Regions from separate parts of the Homo sapiens genome. Here regions 1 and 3 are each linked to region 2. Evidence: fine-mapped QTL for protein levels in blood plasma. A gene starts in region 2. Each other region holds a variant in brackets. All regions are shown on one strand. Distances are from middle to middle. Region 1 overlaps CPA4 (carboxypeptidase A4). Region 2 holds the start of CPA4 (carboxypeptidase A4). Region 3 holds the start of LOC124901837 (small nucleolar RNA U13).

The links. PIP is the chance, under the fine-mapping model, that this variant and not a neighbour inherited with it causes the effect. The UK Biobank Pharma Proteomics Project read protein levels with antibody pairs (Olink). The fine-mapping took linkage between variants from a reference panel, not from the people measured, so its PIPs are less certain.
Region 1: its variant is fine-mapped to the plasma level of the CPA4 protein (UK Biobank, PIP above 0.99). The variant lies in the coding sequence of CPA4. If it changes the protein, the assay may bind it differently, which can mimic a change of level.
Region 3: its variant is fine-mapped to the plasma level of the CPA4 protein (UK Biobank, PIP above 0.99).

The regions. Positions count from the first base shown.
Region 1 is chr7:130,305,021-130,313,020 of GRCh38, reverse strand. It overlaps CPA4 (carboxypeptidase A4), which reads right to left. Exons shown (of 11, transcript NM_016352.4): 6 at 7,101-7,205; 7 at 6,124-6,234; 8 at 4,624-4,714; 9 at 2,035-2,234; 10 at 899-983. Among named protein-coding and RNA genes, the nearest start is that of CPA4, 16 kb to the right of the region's middle. The variant C/T (reference allele first, on the strand shown) is at 4,640.
Region 2 is chr7:130,289,799-130,297,798 of GRCh38, reverse strand. CPA4 (carboxypeptidase A4) reads right to left here and starts at 4,638. Exons shown (of 11, transcript NM_016352.4): 1 at 4,551-4,638. The coding sequence starts at 4,618. RefSeq lists enhancers at 1-333, 4,144-4,233.
Region 3 is chr7:130,336,140-130,344,468 of GRCh38, reverse strand. The region is part of intron 1 of LOC105375503 (a long non-coding RNA gene); the gene reads left to right. LOC124901837 (small nucleolar RNA U13) reads right to left here and starts at 54; the gene lies at 1-54. The variant AAGAG/G (reference allele first, on the strand shown) is at 1,389.

The DNA of each region.
Region 1 (8,000 bases), 15 kb before region 2:
CCATTTTAAGTTCCCCTTGATTAAAAACTAGCCCCAAACATCAGCCTAGTGGGTAATGTCAGCGTGACCAGGAACATTCCAACTCTAAGATAAACCTCCCCTCCAACCAGAAACATGCCAACCCCAAGACAATCTCCGCTCTGATCAGAGATATTCCAACCCAGGAAATAAAACTCTCCTTCACACAGAAACATTCTGAGCCTGCGATAAGCTCCCCCTCCCTAAACCCTTAAATACCCTTAGTCTCTAAGACAGAACACTCCTGACTGAAATCAGCCAGAAGCCCCTCTCAGGTTTATTCCCAGAATAAACCTGTCTTTGACTGCTAAGCTGCTTTTTGTGTTTCTTTCCTCTTTCTTTAACTCTTACAAGAAGAGGGCTTGTGCTGGAAAACTCCTCCTTATAATAACCATCAGATCTCATGAGATTTACTCACTATCATGAGAACAGCACAGGAAAGACCTGCCCCCATGATTCAATTACCTCCCACCAGGTCCCTCCCACAACATGTGGGAATTCAAGATGAGAGCTGGGTGGGGACACAGCCAAACCATATCAGATGGGGTCTTGCTATGTTGTCCAGGCTCAATGTTTGTCCATCTCCTTTAGGAAGATGAGGGAGTCTCCCCCAACTCCACTACCACCATCAGTTTACCAACTGAAAGGTGGGTTTCCCTTGAAAATGAAGGGATGGGCATGAGGAATTTTTGATATGATGTTGATGAAGGGGACTGCATGCAACAGCTGTCACCACACAGGCATGATGTAGTTCAGTCTATTACCAACAACAAAAACAATCAGATGACAAGTAAGTCTAACTTACAGCCCTCCTCCCACTCCATTTCAAGTTTCCTCTCAAAGTGCTTTCTAAATAACTCATAAATAAGCGAGTACTTACAGACAGTGGTGCAGGTGGGACCCACTTGGTACTCAGTGCCCGACACAGAAGCCAGAGCTTTGGCCGCAAGCCTCGCCACCTTGTCCTGGGAAGGGGGAATCCGTGGAGTGAGAAAAAATCGATCCTGAAGCTTGACCTTCCTCAGCTGCTCTGCTCTGGGATGGTTTGGAAGATTCTCAGCCCCCCCCGATTTCCTTTCTGGTCCCTTGTTTCCCCTTCGCCCAGTGCCAAGGCCCAACTGTAAACTGAGGGAGGTGGCATGGTTCCTTCAACTCCTTCTCCCACCACACCCCCAGTTCTTGACTCCCAGTTTGGGGGAGGAGATGAGGAGGGAAGTGGAAGCCTGTGCATTATGTACTCAGATTGGAAGAGATGGGGGTTCTGGGGCTGCTCACTGACCCACTAGGAATCTAGTAAAGGCACCACCGTCTTCACCTATCCTGAGAAGGGAGACGTCATGCACACATGAGGGAGGGCCAAATATGCTCAAGAGAAAGCTCTCAAAGAGTTGGGTGTTGCAGAGTGGAGGAGGAGAAGGACCGCCATAGGTGGATGATCCCTGTGTAGAGTGCCTGCCTGAGAGGCCGGGTGGGGGTGGGGGAGCAGAATCAAGCCCGCACTTTGCCGTGAGCCTGGGAGGGGCTGCATCTGCCTGAGGTTTAAGGGCTGGCTGTGAGCCTGGGCAGCCACCTGCAGTCACCCTCCAGATGCCAGGCCTGCTCCTGATGGCCCACGTTCTGGATGAGACACAGAGCACCCCAGGCTGTGGCCTTCGCCCTCCTTAAACTCTTCTTTCACTAGAGTGAGGATCTCTCCCCCTTGCCCACCCAGGTGCCACCCACAGTCCTTGGCAAGCAGTGGGTCCACAATACATGGCAGTCAGAAAAACAAGGGAGACGGAAAGGCGGGGCAGGCACGGTTCTGGGAACTCATAGCAGACACAGAAATAAAGGGCACTGTTTTCCTGTCCCCAGCAGATGACAGCATATCCCAAAGGGCAGGGAGAGAAGATTGGACCTTCAATGAAACATGCCTAGGCTCCTGGACCCTCCCTATAAAGCTGCAGAGCTACCACCTTAGCAGCGCCAGGAGGGTCAGGCGGGCCCCAGGCTGGGTGGGAGGCAGCTGTGACTCACGAGTTCCTCGGCATCTGGGGCCTTTTTGACTGAGTACCCATATGGATACATCAGCAGCTGCGAGTAGCTGTGCAGGTCGATGAAGCCCTTGAAATTCCCATGTTTTTGGATGAAATCTACCACTGATTTCACCTCCACTTCCGAATTGGCGTGGGGTCCATGGTACACTTCGGAGCAAGGGTTGTCGCTGGCTCCCTTTCCTGTTGGGGATAGCCCAAGAACAAACATTAACTCATAGTCCAAGAACACAGAAATGCAAGACGCTCCACCTAGAGAGGGGCCGAAGGTATTGGGAATGGGCAGGCCATGGCGAGACGGCCCAGAGCACCTAGTCCATGGTGGGTGTGGACTGCAGAGAAGGCATGGAAGAGGGAGGGTTGGGTGTTGGGTCTGCTACAGCTGAGGAGAAAAACTGTTGGAGTTGACCTTGCCTTGTACCAATAGCAGTTGTCATAAATAATTAATATCACCCTTGAGAATGAGTTGTAATTAATAAGTAGACTAGATAATTAATATGAATACCAATAAATAATGAAAATGACTCCATTTATTCTGGTGTCAACTTATTCTCTGGTTGAGATCTTAAAGGCCAAGTGTGCCAGAAATAATCAATTGTTGTGGCTAAAATCTCTTGATTATTTGACAGGTATTTAGAAACACTGCCTTCTGTATTACTTCATAATATAGTTCCCTCGGGTTTCTAGGGTGTGTGTGTGCACACGTGCATACGTGTGTGTGTGCGTGTGTGTGTGTATGAATGTGACTGAAACCACCCCAGTGGTGGGAATATCTGACTTAACTTTGAAGCTCTGAGTTCCCACATTTGTATCAGTTCCTTTCCCACAGTCATTATTTTCCCCCAATGGTTTGTGTGGTATTTCTATACAAGTAAAAGAAGCACATTAAAAACAAACCATCGGGGCCGGGCACAGTGCCTCATGTCTATAATCCCAGCACTTTGAGAGGCTGAGGTGGAAGGATCACTTAAGCCCAGAAGTTCAAGACCAGTCTGGGCAACATGGCAAAACCCCATCTTCACAAAAAAATACAAAACTTAGCTCGGCATTGTGGCATGCGCCTATAGTCCCAGCTACCAGGGAGGCTGAGGTGGGAGGATTGCTTAAATCCAGGATGTCGAGGCTGCAGTGAGCCATGATCACGCCACTGCACTCCAGCCTGGATGACAGAGCACGACCGTGTCTCAACAAAACAAAACAAACAAACAACCCATCAGTACAGCCATGGGACAGTGAAAGAGAACTGTCTGGATTTGAAATTGGAAGCTGAGTTTAGATCAGAACTCTGTTCACCCATGTCATCTTGAGATTGTCTCTGAGCTTCCACCGTCTCATTTCAGATCATAAAATTCACTCGCTAGGTGAGAAGAATAAATATGATAAATACCGGAAGGTACTTAGTACACAGTCGGCACTTCTGTGGAGGGTGGTTTTTAAATCGCTGGCACTCAGAGCCCAGGTCTCCTAATTCTCTTTCCCTTTCCATGACAGCCAGCTGCTAAGGTTCATATCTACACATCTAAGGGTACTGGAGTGGAATTTTCACAGCACAGTCTTGCCCTTTGGGGTGACAGTGCTAATTCCTCTCTTCTGAGTTGCTGCCAGGAGTCCTTCCGCCTGCTCACAACTTGCCCAGGCAGGGCTGGTAGGGTCAGGGGTGAAGGTTCCCCGTTTTGTATGTCTTAGAAGAGAGTGTTTTTAAAATATTAGCATAGATGGCAATCTCAATGTAAGATGCTCTGTCCCACCATTCTCTCGGGAAGACAGACATCACTATCATTCCCTTTCAAAATCACAAAAATATATTTTAAAAAACAACAAACAGTCCGGATGCGATGGCTCATGCCTGTAATCCCAGCACTTTGGGAGGCTGAGGCGGGCAGATGACCTGAGTTCAGGAGTTCAAGACCAGCCTGGCCAACATGGCAAAACCCTGTCTCTACTAAAAATACAAAAATTAGCTGGGCATGGTGGCATGCACCTGTCATCCCAGGAGGCTGAGGCAGGAGAATCACTTGAACCCGGGAGGCGGAGGTTGCAGTGAGAGTGAGCCAAGATCCTGCCACTGCACTCCAGCCTGGGCGATGGAGCAAGACTCTGTCTCAAAAAAAAAAAAAAAGGCTGGGCTAGGTGGCTTACGGCTATACTCCCAGCACTTTGGAAGGCTGAAGCAGGTGGATCATGAGGTCAGGAGATCAAAACCATCCTGGCCAACATGGTGAAACCCCATCTCTACTGAAAAAAAATAGCCGGGCGTGGTGGCGTGCACCTGCAGTCCCAGCTACTCAGGAGGCTAAGGCAGGAGAATCACTTGAACCCAGGAGGCAGAGGTCGCGGTGAGCCAAGATCACGCCACTGCACTCCAGCCTGGGTGACAGAGTGAGATTCCATCTCAAAACAGCAACAACAAACAAAACACTAAGTCAGAGCCTAAGGAGTGCTCCTCAGTCTCTCAGTGACGCAGCAACGGAACCAAAGTGGAAACGCGCTCCGTCCCGGCCAGCTCAGAGCACTGGTAGACCAGGCGAGCCCAGGGACAGCAGGATTTGAGAACTGTCTCCCCACCGCCTACCTGCAAAACTAGCGTT[C/T]CAGTTTCTATTTGGGTCAGCACCAATGCAGGAGCTTCCAGGATTTCGGGACCGCGTCTTCCTCCATAATCGGTTCTGAAAAAGCCACCAAGGAGGGGACAAACAACCAGAGGCAGATCAGATCACCGAAGAGGGCTAGGGTGGAGATGACACGCAGGCAGGGCAGGCTGCTTGCAGTTCTGCCAGGAGGGCCCTGGGGCTCCTAGTCCTCATTGAGCAGTTGTCTCTCCTCCTGCAGAGAGAGGAGTATTTCCCCTTCCGGCTCTAAGAGAAGGACTTCTTCCAAATGTACTGATGAGACCTTTATATGCTAGAACCAGTCAGATACTGCCTGAATCCACTGAATAATTTTTGGCTTTGGCAGAAGTGGGCAAATGGACACTATATGCCTCGGTGATAATAGATGTAGCTGGAAGCGCACAGCCCCTGTTTCTTGCTTGCCTAAAAAATTCCCCTGAATCCAATCAAGCTCTAGACCTGGCAATCTATGAACAGGAAATACAGGGGATAAAGGAACAAACTAAATGGCATAACAAAGAAGCCATCAGCCAAATTCAGAATGTGAGACACTGTACAAGACAAATTACTTGGCTTCTCCCCTAAATGAGTGAGACTTTTAAAAGGTGTGTGTGGGAGCTGCTGTAGAATAAAAGAGGCTGCAGAGACACAGCACCAGGTGCATGCGCAGACCTTGCTGGGTCCTCACTTGAACAAATTGACTCTTAAAAACACTTTTTTTTTTTTTTTTTTCTGAGATGGAGTCTTGCCCTGTCGCCCAGGCTGGAGCAGTGGCGCCATCTCGGCTCACTGCAAGCTCCGCCTCCCGGGTTCACGTCATTCTCCTGCCTCAGCTTCCCAAGTAGCTGGGACTACAGGCACCCACCACCACACCCAGCCAATTTGTTTGTATTTTTAATAGAGATGTGGTTTCACCATGTTAGCCAGGATGGTCTCGATCTCCTGACCTCATGATCCGCCCACCTCGGCCTCCCAAAGTGCTGGGATTACAGGTGTGAGCCACCGCGCCTGGCCTCGGCCTCCATTTTTAAGGTAATCGGGGGTGTTAGATGATATTAAAGAACTTCCATTATTCCTTTAAAAGTGATAGTAGTGCCATAGGGTTTTTTAATTTTTTTTTTTCTATCGTCAGTTAGAGATGCGTACTAAAGTAGTTTAGGGTGAAATAACATAATGTGTTGAATATGTTTTAAATACGTCACGAAAAAATGTGTGGGAGGGCAAGAGATGAAAAGATTTGTAAAATGTTGGTCATTGTTAAGACTCATGATAGGGAGTTCATTAGACTATTTTCTCTAAGAAGAAATATCCCCTGGTGATTCTCAGCTCTGAGGATGACTAGAAGATGAAATCCCAAGGAAGCTCATAAGGTGCACATTTGTGGAAATTCTCTCCAAGATCAGACAATTAGTGGCAAAGCAAGGAATTCAACAGTCTGCAAGCCCAGCCCATTTGGGAATACTCACTTGAGTTTGAGTATACACATATCCATCAGGATTGGCCACAGGCAACAAGAAAATATCCATTTTCTCCAAGATGGAGGTGATAGCTGGATCCCTCTGGTAATCAGATACAATCTAAGCAGAGACAATATGCTTGTCAGCTATCCCATGGCAGGATGGGCCATTAGGGCTGAACCATGTATCTTCTCAAGATGCCCAGCAACCAGCTAGAATGAATGCTCCTAGAACAGCATCCACCCTCAAAAGCCTCCCTGCCACCCTCAGAGGCTCTGCTCTCTGCAAAGCCCTCTGAGCCCTTCAAAGCCTGGAGAGACACGGCTGCTTGGGGACATGGCTGCTAATGGCATCAACTGCAGTGAGTCCTGGGGTACGTGCTTTATTCCTTCCTTCCAGGAGGAGGGAGCCACACATTGTAATAGTTTTTAGGAATTTGAACCTCCAATGAAGAGGGAAGGAAGATGTGTCCTCCACATGCACCCCTCCTCCCCTCCCAGCAGACTTTCTTTCTTTCTTTTTTTAAGACAGAGTCTTGCTCTGTTGCCCAGGCTGGAGTGCAGTGGCGTGATCTTGGCTCAACGCAACCTCCGCCTCCTGGGTTCAAGGGATTCTCCTGCCTCAGCCTCCTGCTGCCCTCCCAGCAGCCTTTCTAGGAGATGGAGATGGCGTGAGGTCCCCGAGGGTCTATGGGGCCTTGTCTGGGTGTTGCTCTGCTCCCTTTCTGCGGAGTGGACTGCTCTCAGAGGCTCAGGCCCACCTCTGCTGCATATCAGCTTGTGCACCACCAGGAACGCAATCAATTTGGCCGCAGTGAGCTGACCAAGGGGTTTTGACCATTTGCTTCTCCAATCTGAAAAGGCCCCCCAGCCGACTGGGTCTTAGTAGAGAACCCTCCCACCTCGTGCCCCAGGCCCAGCCACATGGCATGCTGCAGGGGCACCCCGGCACCATCAGCATTCCTGGCTAATACCACGCAGCATGACCTTCCTTGCCGTCCAGATTGCAGTGGCCTGGGAGATCCACTCTCGGGAATGGATGCCTGCATTCAGCCAAACGGCCGGCCGCCTCACGCCTTTCCCAGTGCTGAACTGCAGAAGGGAGAAAAGGCTCGAAAATGACCGCCTGCCCGCATCTCTGCTCACTTCTCCTCTCTCCAGCTCTCTCCCATTCATTTAATTCATTTAAGATAATTCAGAGATCAAATGTTCCTAAGGGCACCATCTATTTATCGAGCTTATCCGTGACTTGGAAGCTTAATTGGTTGGCTGCGGGGCCAAGCTGCAGCTCCAGGCAGCCTGAACCTCTCCAGCATTAGGAGCAAATGGGAGGGGAAACAACCGTTACTGTGTTTTATGATGCCGGTGCCATTAGAGATAATGTTATGTCTCTTGAAAGACCTCAAATGGTATCCCAACAGCGAGAGACATAAGGGTACACAAACCAGGCTGTTTCGGTCGACATGATAAATGAATTTGGTTTTAAACTAAGAAGAAGGGGGGCTCGCTATAGCTCTTTGTAAATGGCAGCCATGAATCCTGGCTCCTGCCTTTGCCATAGTGTTGGGCCCCCTTGGGTCAGAGCTTGGTGCTAATGAAGCCAGGGTCTCCAACAGATTGGCAAAAATATTTAAATGTAATTATCCAGCTCCGTGGCAGGTCTCCTCTCCCACTGGTAATTTGCTTAGTGCTATAAGCCTGAGTTCTTTGGGACTTATACGAAGCTGAGGGTTTGGCAAATTCTTAGCACCATTGGTGTTCCATGGGTTATACGCCCAAATTCCTTCTTATTCATTCAACTGGATTTTTATGTAATTTATGTCATTATCATAGCTCTCTACCTCTTTGCCAATACAGTCTTGAATCTGTTAGAAATATTTGGAAATT
Region 2 (8,000 bases):
ATCCTCACTCGATGTTGTCACTGTGTCATCTCTTTGACACAAGTGAATGCAAAGAGAGCCGCTGTGGGCTCAAGGACCTGTTGAGAGTGAATGGCTGTCACAGGGAGCTGAGTGTGCAGCCTCATGGGGCAGCTCCTCATCAGAAAACCGGTTTCATCCAGATGGCTCTTCAGGGTTTTGCTGGGTTCTGGAAGGTTCTAGGGGCTCTCCAGTGGGTCTAGGCCAGACTTAAGGAGTCAAGGTCCACTGCAGAGCCACTCCTGCTGCAGGTGGCTGGTCTGGAGGAGATGACAGTGCTGAAGGTTCCCTTTCTCCCAACCCACCTGGTCCCCAAAGGGTCCTGGAGGTCAGCGGGTAACTGCACCCTGTGGGCACTGCCGAGGGCCCTGAAGAGATACCACTGGGTGGGCAGGTCTCAGTCTGAACCCAACAGGCTTGCCAAGAGTTGGACCTACCGCCCTGGGAAGATGAGGCATCAAACCTGATCGTTCCCTGACCTCGGCAAGCACCATTGAAAAAAAGGGACCGATGTAAGACAGAATGGAGCCAGGCACCGTGGCTCACACTTGTGATCCCAGTGCTTCAGGAAACCAAGGTGAGAGGATTGCTTGAGGCCAGGAGGTCAAGATCATCCTGGACAAAATAGTGAGACTTTGCCTCTACAAAAAAATGAAAAACAATTAGCTGGGCGTGGTGGTTCACACCTGTAGGCCAGCTACTCAGGAGGCTGAGGCAGGAGGATCGCTGGAGCCCAGGAGTTCAACGCTGCAGTGAGCTATGATCACACCTCTGCACTCTAACCTGGGCAATAGAGCAAGACTCCCATCTCAAAAAACTAAAATTAAAAATAAATAAATTTAAAAAACAGAAAGGAAATCTTTACTCCTGGATGGGGACAAGGGCCCGTCCGCTGAACTCACGCTCTATCATAACCTACCTCCAACACTCCAAAGAGGGGGTATCTTTAAAGTGGGGATTCTATACTTGGGAGGCTAAGGCAGGAGGATTGCTTGAGCCCAGGAGTTCAAAAGCTGCAGTGAGCTATGATTGCATCACCGCACTCCAGTCTGGTTGACAGAACAAGACCCTGTCTCAAAAAAAAAAAAAAAAAAAAAAAAAGTGAGGGGAGCTGCTAGAAAGATCTTGTGTGGTGACATATTTATTAGCACAGTTAAGCGTGTGTAAAATGCAGCACTGGCTACAGCAATCACAAAGAGGAAAAGGAGAAAGAAGGGACAGGAGGAGAAAAAAGGAGGACATAAGAATAAGAAGCTCTTTGAGTATGAAAATCATGTTACGCATTCACCCAACACATGCGTTTTAGTTTTTCCAAAGTGGTGACTTCACAACAGAACTTGTAGACATTCCTGGGCGCAGTCCCAGGACAATGGGACACCGTGTCTCTGACTGGCCCTGAGGATGATTAAATCCACAAACCCATTTCATCCTGCTCTAATCAGCCAAGCTACAGAGGTCAACAAAATATCTGTAGCATGCAAAGCGGCAGGGCAGAAGAGCGGGTGCCGAGTGAAGCCCGTTCCATCTGTCTCTTCTTCACCTCTCCCTTCTGCCCCATCTCGGACCCAGCCCAAACTCACCGCGTACTTTTGTATGCTTTTGTACACGCTGTTCCCACTGCCTGCAATCCATCCTTTTTCTCATCTGTCAGGCCCATCTAGTCCCATCTAATCTTTAGGACCAACTCACATCACCCATGAAGCTTTTCCTGACCAGAGGAAGCAAAGTCCTAACAGTCTTCAGATAGTGCTGAACATTGGCGGTTGTGGTAGTGGGTAGCATTATCCTTTTTTTTCAGATGGAGTTTTTGCTCTTGTTGCCTTGCCCAGGCTGGAGTGCAATAGCACGATCTCAGCTCACTGCAATCTCCGCCTCCGGGGTTCAAGTGATTCTCCTGCCTCAGCCTCCCAAGTAGCTGGGATTGCAGGCATGCACCTCCACGCCCAGCTAATTTTGTATTTTTAGTAGAGGCGGGGTTTCTCTATGTTGGTCAGGCTGGTCTCGAACTCCCGACCTCAGGTGATCCACCTGCCTCAGCCTCCCAAAGTGCTGGGATTACAGGTGTGAGCCACTGCACCCAGCGGTAGCATTATCCTTATGAACAGAAGCACAGCAACACCTGAAAGGAGGGAGGACATTGCGGGGTGCAATGCGAAGGGCAGCCTTTTTCTTGCCCTCACTGTCCTTGTCTGTATTTGAAAAATGCCCTCGTCAGTTCATGAGGCTCAAGATGGTGGAGCACATCCTATCTCCACTATCCAGAAATTCACTCAAAGACCTTGAGCTCTTTCTGAAGATGGAAATTGGCCTGGGAGGGGGACGTGTTGGGATTCACAGGTGGCCATGTCTGCCCCTCCTGCTCCACACAGGTGTTCTCACAGCTCCTCTTAACTTGATCCTCTCCAATAGACAGGGCGTCCAGCTGCTGCCATTGCAATGGCTGGCACTCCCACTCCCTCACCCTCACAGGAGTCTGTGCTTTGGACAGTCAATACCCACTTTGGTGACTGAGCATCTATCCCTCCCCTTTCACCATGCTGACAGCCAAGTGGCCCGTCCTTTGTGCCTTTCTCATCTGCCTCCCTAGCCAGGCTTAGCAGCCACCACAAAGAATATTAAGAGATGGTTTCATAGAACTCTTAGATGCCTGCCAGCTACTGTTGATGCTGTAACCAGCTCTGCAACTGGTTCCTGTTCTCTGCCTGCCTGGTGCCTCTAGGCATCCTGGCCATTGTCCCATCCTGAAGATCTCTGAAGACCAGGGCAGAAGACTCCAGTAGAGCAAGAGAGACTGGGGAGATAGGTGAGGCAGATGGAAGGGAGGGGAATGGGTGGTGGGTGGTGGGGAGAAACCATCATCCTCATCTTCAGCAGCCAATCCAGAGCCTGGCTTCCCAACCACTTGAATGCTCAGAGGCCAGCTTCCCCTTGCTCTAAATGTTCCCCTTGCTCTAAAAGCTGGGTGTCTGGGACACCTCTAGAGAGCCCAGGAAGAATTCCACTACCTTTGCTAGGTTTCCTACTATGGCGTGAGAATGGATTTGGGGATGAGAATGACACTATCAGTTCAAACCATCTGCAGTCAGCTCAGGCACACAGCTTTTTCTGTGCAAAATTCCTGCAGAGAGCATTCTAGGGCCTGGCCCAGCTGTCGCAGCCCAGGTGCCCACCACATTGCAAGAGAGGTCTGTATCTTGCGAAATAGAGATTTTTCAGCCACATGAATAGCTGCAGTGGGAGCCTGACAGTTCCATGCGTCAGCCCACACGGCAGCAAGTCTAGTCACTACACACCTACTGCTGAGCCGCCTGTGGGAAAATCTTCCCTGGCCACCTGCCACTCCTAACCCCTCTGAGCTATTTGGCAACAGAGACACAGGTGTGAACAGAAGTCATCATCATAAAACTTAGTCAATCTCATATAAGTAATTACCTCAAAAAACAACCCCAAAGTCTCATTAGCCAGATAGTAAAATAGAAAGAAAACTAAGAGACAGATCCAAGAGATATAGGATTTTATTTGGAGATGAACTTGTGTTATAGCAAAAGGGTACGAGTTTTACGTTCAGAGTTCCAGCTCCCCTGCTTCCCAGCTAAGTGGCCTTGAGCGCGTTCCTTAACATTCTAAGGCTGATTTTTTTCATGTTTAAGTGGAAGAAAATAACACCCCTGCCTGGCAAAGTTGTTGTGTGATCAAAAAGATAATGTACATGAAAGCTCTTTGCAAATGGTAAAGTATTATGCAGTAATGAGTTATTATAATTCAGTCTTCTAACAGGGCACCATGGTATCCCTTTTATCTCTCCTACCACCCAAATGTCCTCTCCCCTGCAAACCTCAAAGTATTCTGCATGGAGCGTGTTGAGCACGTGTGTGTGTGCACACACACACGCGCACACACACACGGTGTTCAGGCATGTGTCTCTGCATGTCATTTTCATAGCTGTGTCTAGGCAAGACCTGTGAAATCTCCACGTCCCAGAAGCCAGTAAGAAAGCACCAGCTCAGAAGAGGGTGTAGCTCAGGGGTAGAGCATTAAACTGCAGATCAAGAGAAGGCACCAGCTCTGCAAAGCCTTCGCCATTAACAAAGAAGTGAAACCAACAAGCTTGAGACCCAGGGTTTCCCTTTATGCATGGCGGAAATTGGAAACAAACCATTTCTGGTAACCAGTAACTCTTAGTAATTAATAACGTAGCTCTTAGTAACCAGTAACTCTTAGTAATTAATAAGGTAGGAGTAAGAAAGTAGATGCCTGGAACTGACCTTATAAGTAAGAACTAGGCAGAAAAAGAACTGGCAGGAGATGAGGGAGCTGGGGAGAGACTGCAATGATCATCTAGTCCTGATTTCACAGATGAAATGGGGTCTCAGAGAAGAGAGTGGACTTGTCCAGGATGACACAGGGGCAAAGCTGGAACAAGAGCCCAGGTCTTCTTCCTCCATGTGAGCTATTATCAGCCATTCATTTTCAGTTCCATTTGGCTCCCATATTTCTGAAATAACCAAATAATAAGTCCAAAAGGAACTTACCCAAAAAATTTTTCTTGGCCACAGATGCTGGACCCAATAAGGGCCCCAATGAACAGTATCCACCTCATGTCCCCGGGGAGTCAGTCATACAGTGGCTGAGTCAAGCTGTATTTATAAAGAGTCTGAGAGTGACTCAAGTCCTCAAAAATGCTAATGTGATTCCCAAGCACCCTTGCAACTCTGACTGTGACAGGCAGGCCCTACCAATGCCTCTCCCATTCCTTTCAAGTGATAAAGGTTGAGCATCTCAATTTACAAGGTCAGGAACTTGCTCCAGGAGCTGAAAAAGTCTGTGCCAAGGGTACCATATTGCTCATCACTTGGCATTTAAATAGTGTTTTTTCAGTGAATAAGCTAATTCCACAGTGTTGGATGGAATTTATCCTGATAGGAGAGGTCAGATTATAAACCTGGCATAGAATTACCTCTAGAATAATAATAAAAAAGTTAAGACTATCAAAGCAAGACTGAGCTGGCTCCAAGACCACATGCTTGACAAGCCCTGCCAGAGAATTTCACCAGGGCAGGTCAGGATGAGGAAAGAGGTTTGGGGCCTCTTTTATGTATCTGAAGCCTAATTCTTCTGACTCCACTAAGGAAATAGAAATGTATCAGGCAAATGATATAGAAAGGATGTTTTAGTCTGAATAAATTATCAGTGTTCCTTGGGGTCTGATCTATGGGGAAGGCTTAATGGTTTTATCAATAATAAGATTTTCAGCCGGGCGAGGTGGCTCATGCCTGTAATCCTAGCACTTTGGGAGGCCGAGGTGGGCGGATCACGAGGTCAGGAGATTGAGACCATCCTGGCTATCACAGTGAAACCTCGTCTCTACTAAAAATACAAAAAATTAGCCGGGCGTGGTGGCGGACGCCTGTAGTCCCAGCTACTCAGGAGAATGGCGTGAACCTGGGAGGCGGAGCTTGCAGTGAGCCGAGATCGCACCACTGCACTCCAGCCTGGGCGACAGAGTGAGACTCCATCTCAAATAAATAAATAAATAAATAATAAGATTTTCTTATACTTCCTAGACTGTGGGTCTGGTGTCCTTTCCGCCAAGTCACAGCTGAATAAATGGAAGACACTCATATCTCCATAACGCCTTCAGGGGCTCTGGGACCTTTGAGTCTGTCCTGGGAGCCCCAGTTCCCACAGCCTTTCCCATCCCACCCTCCCTACGGTCTACATGCTTTCCACACCCACTCAAAGGGAGTGGACACAACCAAGGGTCATAGTTGAGAGAGTTAAAGAAAAACTATCCTGACCTGTGTTAAAATGTAAGACCTAATTCAAGATTATTATGATTAGGACCATGGCTATTTCAGTAGGAAAGACTTACTGTGCTTAACACTGAATACGGCAAAGAAAACAGAGAGGATCAGTGGGATTACTAAGAGAAGACATCAAGGTAGGGGGATTCTTGCTAAAAGCAGGCCAAGGACTTATACATCAAAGTCCCCATCAAAGGTGGGGATGAGGAACTTGATCAGATATCAAGGTGGGAGGGATGACTTCGCAGGATCTTTGCTCAGGCTGGCTTAGCCAGGGCTCAAGAACCAGCCTAATCAAAAGGAGGGTGCAGAATCTCAAGTGTGGTCCCAGAGAGAGCCTTTGTTAGGAGCTGTGGAGCTAGGGGCCATCATCTCCTCTTGCTCCCTCAGGGTCCTTTTGTCCTCTCAACACTTCAACTGAATTCCTACACCCACCCTGTCCACCACAAAGCGTGGGCTCAGCGTCACTGAGATCGATGTCAGCTTTGAAGTCAGCAACAAGAACAACTGAGACCCAAATCTGTAAGAGATGTGAAGTGGGAGAATCAAGGACCAAGCATTCTAGGCAAGCTGAAATTTAGTTCCTACCTTTTCTCCCAGGGAAAATCATCCACATGAAGAAAACCTAAATCCCTAATGGGAGTCAATATCTAAAGAGAAACTGTGTGCAACCTGAGACCGAGGCTTGATAGGGCAACCAGGAAAAAGGAATGTCATTGGCTTGGGTCCCCACCATTTGTGTGTTTGTTTTTTTTGAGACAGAGTTTCACTCTGTCGACCAGGCTGGAGTACAGTGGTGCGACCATAGCTCACTGAAGTCTCAAACTCTTGGGCTCGAGTGATCCTCCCAACTTAGCCTCCCAAGCAGCTGAGACTAAAGATGTTTGCCACCATGACGGGTGCTTTGTTTTGTTTTTGTACAGACGGGGTCTCACTGTGTTGCTCAGGCTGATCTCAAACTCCTGATCCTCCCACCTCAGCCTTCCAAAGTGCTGAGATCACGGGCCTGAGTCACCATGCCCTGCCCCACAAGTCTTCATAAAGCAGCACACCAGGAAAGGAAAAACCAAAGGCAACAATGGAACCAGGTATAGCACCTGGCACGAGGCCTGGCACAGTGCAGTTGCTTCATGAGTATTTATTGAATACATGAACTTGAAAGTCCATTGCTAGCCCTAAAATGCTACACTCTTACGATGAAGCAGTGACACATGCTACACCATGGATGAACCTTGAAAACATTATATTAACCAAAAAAAAAAAAAAAAATGCTAGCCACAAAAGGGCAAATACTGTTTAATTCCGCTTATACGAAATACCTAGAATAGGCTAATTCGTAGAGACAGAAAGTAGCTAGTAGTTGCCAGGGGCTGAAGGGCAAGAGGAATGGGGAGTTATGGTTTAATGGGGAAGAGTTTCAGTCTGGGATGATAGGAAAGTTCTGGAGATGGATGATGGTGATGGTGGCATAACGTTGTGAATGTACTTAATGCCAATGAATTGTACACTTAAAAATGGTCAAAATTGTAAGTTTTGTGTATAATTTAACACAATAAAAAACTGTCAAATGGGGCCAGGCACGGTGGCTCACGCCTGTAATCCCAGCACTTTGGGAGGCCGAGGCGAGTGGATCACTTCAGGTCAGGAGTTCAAGACCAGCCTGGCCAAAATGGTGAAACCCTGTCTCTACTAAAACTACAAAAATTAGCCAGGCATGGTGGCAGGTGCCTGTAATCCCAGCTACTTGAGAGGCTGAGGCAGGAGAATTGCTTGAACCTGGGAGGCAGAAGTTGCAGTGAGCCGAGATCGCGCCATTGCACTCCAGCCTGGGTGACAGAGTGAGACTCTGTCTCAAAAGGAAAACAAAAACAAAAACTGTCAAATGATGTTGGGAGCACTCTGCTCCGGATGGATTTTTTTTTTTAATATTATTCTTTTTAGAGATGGGGTCTCCCCATGTTGCCCAGGCTGATCTCAAACTCCTGGGCTCAAGCAGTCGTCCCACCTCAGCCTCCCAAAGTGCTGGGATTTCAGGTGAGCCACCACGCCTGGCCCCAGGATGGATTTTCTAAAAGATGAAGGGGTACAATGCCATGACTTGTTGTGTTTGAGGGCAGCAGAAACTGGAGAAACGGTGCTGCCAGATCAGGCTTAGAAAAATAAACAACACAACCCAAC
Region 3 (8,329 bases), 47 kb before region 2:
TCTCACACACGCATGCGTGAGCACCCAATTATCATACTTATGAACTGCAATTATCAGCTTATGGCTGGATTTGAAGCGGAGACACATAGCTATGCTTGACCTAATACCTCATTTTGGCTTTTCACTTATAATTAATTACTCACCTAATCATTTACTCAGTAAATGTCCTCTGAATACCTGCTATGTTCCAGGCACTTGCTAAAGTCTGGAAACAAAATAGAAAGCAACACATATCTGGCCCTTACATTTCTAAAGGCGTAAGTAGAAAATTAATTTAAATAGCATGAAGATAATTGGTAAACCCAAGACATAATGGTAGCCCATCTCACTCCAGATAAGTGTAAAACTATAGATGGTGTTTGTGTTACAAGGGAAAGGCACATTGTACCATGAGGACGGGGAACATGGGCTCCACATAGACTGAAGGAGAGTTTCCCTAAATTAGAAATTTTTTTGGAGGACTTTTATTTCCTGCAGGTGGGGTGGGTTAGATACCTAAGCAATCTTGCCCAAATGAAAGAACTCAAATGCAGAAGAAAATATTTTTAGTAACAACTTTCTAAAGCCATTGCTGGGTTGGCACAAAAATAAGAATCTATAGATCCCAAAAAGAAGGAAAAGCCAGACAGACACCCAAGTGGTAAGCAAGTTTTGCCTCAGAGAACTTCTCAGAATGCTGGTGTTCTTGATTTTCCTACTGGATGCATGTACCATGTATCTAGAATCATCTTCCCTCTGCTTCAAATCTATCTTTTCAAACCTTCCTTTAGTTAAGGTTTCTGTTTTTACTTATTTGAAAATTTTTGGCCAGGTATGGCAGCTCACATCTGTAATCCCAGTGCTTTGGGAGGCCAAGGCAGGAGGAGCCCAGGAGTTCGCTTGAGCCCAGGAGTCCGAGACCAGCCTGGGCAAGTCAGGGAGACCCTATCTCTGCAAAAATAAAATAAAATTAGCTGGGCATGGTGAGGCACGCATCTGTAGTCCTAGCTACTCGGGAAGCAAGCAAGCAGATCAACTGAGCCCAGGACTTTGAGGCTGCAGAGAACCATACTCCAGCCTGGGTGACAGAACAAAAACCTATCTCAAAAAAAAAAAAAAGAAAAAAAGAAAAAGAAAAGAAATAAGGAAGGGAGGGAGGGAGGAAGAGAGGGAGGGAGGGAGAGAGGGAGGGAGCGAGGAAGGAAGGAAGGAAGGAAGGACAGACAGAAAAAAAAAGAAAGGAGAGAGGGAAAGAGAAAGAAAGGAAAAAAAAGAATAAAGAAAGAAGAAAGAAAAAAGAGAAAGAAAGAAAGAAAGAAAGAGAAGAAAGAAGGAAAGAAAAAGAAAGAAAAGAAGAAAGAAGAAGGAAGGAAGGAAGAAAGAAAGAAAGAAGAAGAAAGAAAGAAAGA[AAGAG/G]AAAAAGAAAGAAAGAAAGAAAGAATTATTTTGCTCTCATTCTTGAAAGGGTTTTTTGGGATAGAAATTCCAAGTTGATTACTGTTTTCCTCTCAACACATTGAAAATATTATCCCACAGTCTTCTGGCTTCCATTTTTGCTGCTAAAAGGTAATGTTTGTTGACTTACTGTTCTTCAGAAGGTGACCTCTCTTTGTTCCTGGTTTCTTTGAAGAGCTTCTCTTTGCTTTTGATGTTCCACAGTTTTATCATCGTAAGTCCAGGTATGGATTTTTTTTGTTTTGTCTTGCTTGAGAATCATTTGAATTCCTGTATCTGAGTGTCACTCGCTTTCTATTATTTTCCAAATTTCTCAGCCATTATATTTTTAAACATTGCCCCTTTTCCTCTCTATTACCTTCATCTGGAACTTTTGACTGGACCTCCTCATTCTAGCCCCCAAGACTCATAAGCATTCTGCTATATTTCCATTGTGTGGTCTCTCTGGGCTACATTCTGGATAATTTATTAGTAAAAAATATTTTTGTCTTTATTCCAGTTACCTGATTCTTCATTGGCTGAGTTTAATCTGCAATTTAATTGATCTGTGAAGTTTTACCTTTCAATTGCTACGGTTCATTGATTCTGCAACCTATTTTTTTCACATTTTTAACACTGCTAAAATCAGGATACATCTTACAATTGGTGGCATCTTGCAATGCTAAGGTGGCACATAAAATTATGGTGCATCTTATAAAATTGATCCTGTTTTATAGTCAATGCAATATGATATTCATTTTTCATTTTTGGAAGTTCTATTTGATTCTTTTTTTCTGATTCAAGCCCAAATGACTTGAATTTCTTATCTATTTTAGAATTTCTTATTTCTTTAAACGTATAAGACAGATATTTTATATTCTGTGTTAGATAATTACAATTCCTAGATGTTTTAAGTCTGTTTCTGCTGCCTATTCTTTCCGCTGGTTCTCACTCATGGTGCATTTTCTCTCATGCCACATACCTGTGAACCAATCATTTTCCTTGAACATTTATCTGTGAGAATCCCTTGAGGCCTGGGTTGAAGGTGGGTTCTTCCAGAAAAGATTTGCGTTTACTTCTGTAAGTTGCTGGGGACACTACCAACCTGCGACCACTCTAAATTAAATAATTTAAGATTTTTTTGGGGGACTGCATAGTTAGCATAAACTTAAACCACAAATTCATGTCGGGGGCTTACTTGTGGTTATGAAATCTCAGGAAATATTTTCCCCGGCATCATCTAACACCAAAGTTTTAAGTCCTGGACAAGAATAGCATGTTATCTGCAAGTGGGTCATCAGAGTTAAAGTGTCTTTAAGGTCCTGGAATTATTGGGAGAAAGGAGAGATATTGATAATTTTTTAGATTTTGGTAAATATGCGTGTTCAAATAGCTAGAGCAACAACTAGAAGAATAGGCCCAGTGCACATAACTTTCAAACTCCACTAAAAATACAAAAATTAGCTGGGCATGGTGGTGGGAGTCATCCCAGCTACTCGGGAGGCTGAGGTGGGAGAATTGCTTGAACCCAGGAGGCGGGGGTTGCAGTGAGCCAAGATCATGCCACGGCACTCCAATCTGGGCGACAGAGCAAGACTGTCTCAAAAAAAAAAAGAAAAAAATACTAGCTATATGGTTTCACAAGAGGCACTCTTAAAACATAAGAAGAAAGAGAGACTCAAAGTCAAGGATGGAAAAAAGATATTCCAAGTAAATACTAATAAAAGAAAGCATATAGCCACGTGCAGTGTCTCGTGCCTGTAATCCCAACAATTTGGGAGGCCAAGGAGGGACGATCACTTGAGGACAGCAGTTCAAGACCAGCCCAGGCAACATAGGGAGACCCTGTCCCTACAAAAAAATAGAAATAAGTTAGCCAGGCATGGTGGCATGCACCTGTGGTCTCAGCTACTTGGGACACCCCTTCTTAAAAAAAAAATCAGGAATAATTCTAACAAGCAATGTGCAATCCTCCCTGTTCTGAAGTAAGCAGGTATATGCAAACCTGCCCCCAAAGTCTTAGGAAGCTGAGAGGTCCAAGAAAGAGGCTGACAAATCTGTTTTTTAGAAAGAAACACTTAATAGGGACTTACAAGCAGAAGCCATGTCTGTGTCTCAGGTGTTGGTGAGACAAGCTGGTGGATTCCTGCACCATTACCGCCGAGACCCATGGCCCATACACCATAGGGACAGGATAACTCCAAAGGGATGTGTAGGACCTTTGAAGGGTGATAGCATCAAGCCTGTACCAACCCCAGGGCAGGATTCATGGCAAGCACATACTCCACTCAAGGAACAACGAACTGGAAATCCCAAGGCCTTCCCCGATCGGGGGGCAACCAGAAGTCAACATGGCAGATTAGCATCTAAGATGGAGTTGCTTTTGCCTCCATACTTCCTGGAGACAATTATAAAACTATTGGAAAATGCTAACATTCCAAACGAATCTAACAGTATACTCTATTCTTAAATAAGAAAACTCAATGTCATCACGCCACTGTGCTCCAACCTGGGTGACAGAGTGAGACCCCATCTCTACAAAAAGTTAAAATTAGCCAGGTGTGACGGTGTGCTCCTGTGGTCCCAGCTACTTCGGAGGCTGAGGTGGGAGGATGACCTGCACCTGGGAGGTAGAGGCTGCAGTGAGCTGTCATCGCACTACTGTACTCCAGCCTGGGTGACAGAGTGAGACCCTGTCTCAAAAAAAAAAAAAAAAAAAAAAAGAGAGAAACTCTTGCACATGTCACCAGAACATATGCACAAGATTGGCTGAATGAATGGAGACGTCATACAACAGAATACAAAGAGCAGAGAAAAGGAGTCAGCTACAGCGCCATGCATCCACATGGTTGAACCTCAAAAAATGTAATGTTGAGCGAAAGAAGCCAAGTCAGAACGCACTGTGTTTCCATTTATATACATCCACAAAACAGTATATTGTTTAGGAATATGTCCATATGCGGTAATTATAAGGAAAAGAAAGAAAATTATTAGCATGATTACTGGTTTTGTCTAGAAAAGGAAAGGGAGTACATTTGAGGGGCATGTGCAGGCTACTCGAATAATGTTACATTCTTGTTCTTAAGCTGAATGATAGGGTAAGAGTGTTAATTTAATTTTTTTTTTTTTTTTGGAGACAGAATCTCACTCCATCACCCAGGCTGGAGTGCAGTGGTGTGATCTTGGCTCACTGCAACCTCTGCCTCCCAAGTTCAAGCGATTCTCCTGCCTCAGCCTCCTAGTAGCTGGGATTACAGGCACCTGCCACCACACCTGGCTAATTTTGTATTTTTAGTAGAGATGGGGTTTCACCATGTTGGCTAGGCTGGTCTTGAACTCCTGACCTCAAGTGATCTGCCTGCCTCCGCCTCCCAAAGTGCTAGGATTACAGGTGTGATCCACCGCGCCCGGCTGTTAATTTTATTTTTAACAGCCACTGAAGTTTTATACAGGATCTTGTACGTATGATATACTTCACAATAAAACATATTTTAAAGGAAATATGGGGCAGTTAATTTACTTTTTATAGTGAGAATCAATCCAAAATGCCCAAAACTGAAAAATCAAGAAGTAGCAATGTAAGCACTTTACCTAGTCTTGTGAATGTTGAGCATCAAGGCTAGAAGAACTCAATGTGGTTATTGCCAGAGAGCAAGACCTGGCACGAAAGCGAGGAGCAGGACTCTGTTGCTTTTTATAACAAGTCTTGTAGAACTCTGACTCTTCATATGATGTGCTGTGTAACCCTTTAAATTAAAGAGAAGTTGTAAAAGTGGCATTTAATACCTAGAGTAGTCCAGCTTATAGAGACAGCAAGCAGAATGGTGGTTGCCAATGGGCAAATGGGAAGTTATTTAATGAGGATATAGTTTCAGTTTAGGAAGAGGAAAAAGTCCTGGAGATGGGTGGTGGTAATGGTTGCACAGCAGTGTAGATATACTTAATGCCACTGAACGCTACACTTAAAAACAAAATGGTACATTTTATGTTATGTATATTTTATCACATTACACAAAATTAAAGCTAAAAAAACCCAGCCAAACAGTAACATTTGAGCTGAGTTAGGTAAGATGTGAAGGAGTTAACTCGACTAAGCGTGATGGGGAGATTGCAGGAAATCTCATTCTAGCCCTGAATCCCTTCCTTGTTGAAGGTATTAATTCCCATGTCTGGCTGGGGACCACCCTGGGGGTCTCCAGAGATCGAATGAGGTGCTCCAACATCTGCAAACAAAACTTCCAAACTAAATTATGTTTTAGTCTCCAAAAGTCCCCTTTGAGTGTTTTAGGAAAATAAATACATCGAGTGTAATCTTTAAAAAAAGAACAACAGGAGCATCATCGTTCCCTTTCTAAAAGGATTCTTTGATTATTGAGAGGATTTGCCACTGTTTCTTAAAATGAAATCTCCCCTAGTGCACTCAAAATGTGATTTAATTAACAAAAAAACAGGCTTATCCCACCTTTCAGGAATATGCCAAGCAGGCGCTTTCAGGAAATGGAATATTAAAAATCCAAGAAAACAATGGAAGGCCTAAAAGGTAGGTTAATGCCGCTCTGGATTAGAGGTTTGAAATTTACTTTCTCATGCAAAATCCCAGTCTGGGGCCACCCACCACAGGGAACCTGAGCCTACTGACCACATCTCCCCAGTTTAGCTAATCATGCCTTGTGCCTCCATCACACACCATAGATTCTAATTCTTTACAGGCATCTGCAAACTCAAAACAAAGTCTTCGTGGGCTGGGGCTGTGTCATATTCATTTGCACCATCCCAGAAACCCTTTGTATAGCCAGGCCACTGCCCAGGACCTATTTGTTGACTGATTTGTTGATTTACTCATTCCAATGACTCCCCAAATCTTAGGGGAACAATCCTTCACATCCAGGACCTTCACCCTTGCCTGCTCCGCTCAGCTGTGCCTCCGTCAGCCCAGAGCTCCTAAACCTTTGCTCTGAGCTGCTCCCCATGTTTTGTTACTGGACCTCACTCTCACACCCCACAACCAGGGACCTACCTCCCCTGGCGTCATCCTCAAATGCAGGCCTCTAACACCAAGGTCTTGCCTCCCCCTCCCCCAGGACGTACGCCCCTGCCCAGATGTAGGCCCAGCAGCTGAAGATAGACTCTTGGGCAACCCTCCGCCACTTGGCTGTCTCCATCCGGGCACCCAGCTGGCCTCCTCTCAACTGTACTACACCACCCCTTCCCCACTAGCTGGGTGTTTGGATGGAGGCCAGACACCCCCCGACCAGCCACAGGGCAGCAAGAGCTATGGAACGGCTGGCCAGGACATGTCACTTGCCAAACCTCAGAGATACTGGGAGGAAGTGGGCTGGGGCTGCGGGCTCCCTGGGTGGGTGTCTAATGCCTGGTCATCTGGGACCTAGCTAATGACCACCATGAGGTGCCCAAGAGCACAGGCTGAGGGCCTGCTCCCAGTGAGACAGTAGGTTGGTAACCTACAGGCCAAGGAAGGGATGCAGCTGCAGCCAAGGCCAGCCCCTTGGGCCTGGAGAGCCACATTTACAGCCCTGTGCAGAGCTTCCAAAGGCCTCACCATGTAGAGGAAAGGTAAAGGTGACCCACATGCTTTCCCTGTCCAGGGGCCAACAAATTTTTTTCTGGAAAGGGCCAAAAAATAAATATTTTAGGCTTTGGGGTCCAGAAGGTAAGATAGAGCAACTGTTCTCACTGAAGAGTCTGTTTTTTTCTTTAATTAAAAAAAAAAAAAATTCATAGAGACAGGGTTTTGCTACGTTGCCCAAGCTGGTCTTGAACTCCTGGCTCAAGCTATCTCCCACCTCAGCCTTCCAAAGTGTTGGGGTTACAGGCACGAGCCACTGTGCCCAGCCTAAAGAGTCTTTTTACATTTAAAAATGTAAAAACCATTCTTAGCTTGGAGGCTATGGAGGCTAGATTTGATCTGCGGGCCATAGTTTGTCTATCCGGTCTACTTAAAGAGGCAGGCATTCATTTATGAGATTATTCAGATCTATTAGACAGCTCAAGGTAAGTCGGAGTCGAGAATTAGAAGCATTTTCAATCAAATCCAGTGATTTCCAAAGTGAGGCATTCATTCCTACCAGGGGGTAAAGGAAGAAACTATTAAGACTTATAAGCTATATTTTTATTCTGTCCTTTTTATTTTAATTTTTATGTTTTATAAAATATATAATATGAGTACAGTGGCATTTGTACAGAATTTATAAATATATAATTACATATGTTGGGTGTGACAAGCCAGATTTTTAAAAAATTATAGGAGTGCAGGATAAAAAAATCTGAAGAATTCTGCCTAGAGTTCTTACATCAGTTTATTTTGTAAACTTGCACACCACCGTGCCTTTGTTTCTATAAGTACCTCTTCTCTCACATAGTGCTGGATGGCACAATCTGATTTTTAAAATTAAAATTTATTTAAATTCACGTTGATAGATGTTGCAGAATTTCACTGTCCTTGAAAGCTATGTATTATGGAGCGAAAGGCTATTTACTGAGCACCACTATGAGCAAGGTTCTGCCTCTGTAACCTCATGTCTGGTTGGGAAAAAGTGGGCAAAAGTTTTACCACTTTTTGATCAAAGTTCACTTTTTTTTTTTTTTTTTGAGATAGGGTTGCGCTCTTGTTGCCCAGGCTGGAGTGCAATGGCACGATCTCAGCTCACCGCAACCTCCGCCTCTTGGGTTCAAGCGATTCTCCTGCCTCAGCGTCCAGAGTAGCTGGGATTACAGGCATGCGCCACCATGCCTGGCTAATTTTGTATTTTTTAGTAGAGACGGAGTTTCTCCATGTTGGTCAGGCTGGTCTACGAACTCCTGACCTTAGGTGATCCTGCCCGCCTCAGCCTCCCAGTGTTGGGATTACAGGCGTGAGCCACCACGCCTGGCCCAAAGTTCCCTTTGAAATAACACTAGA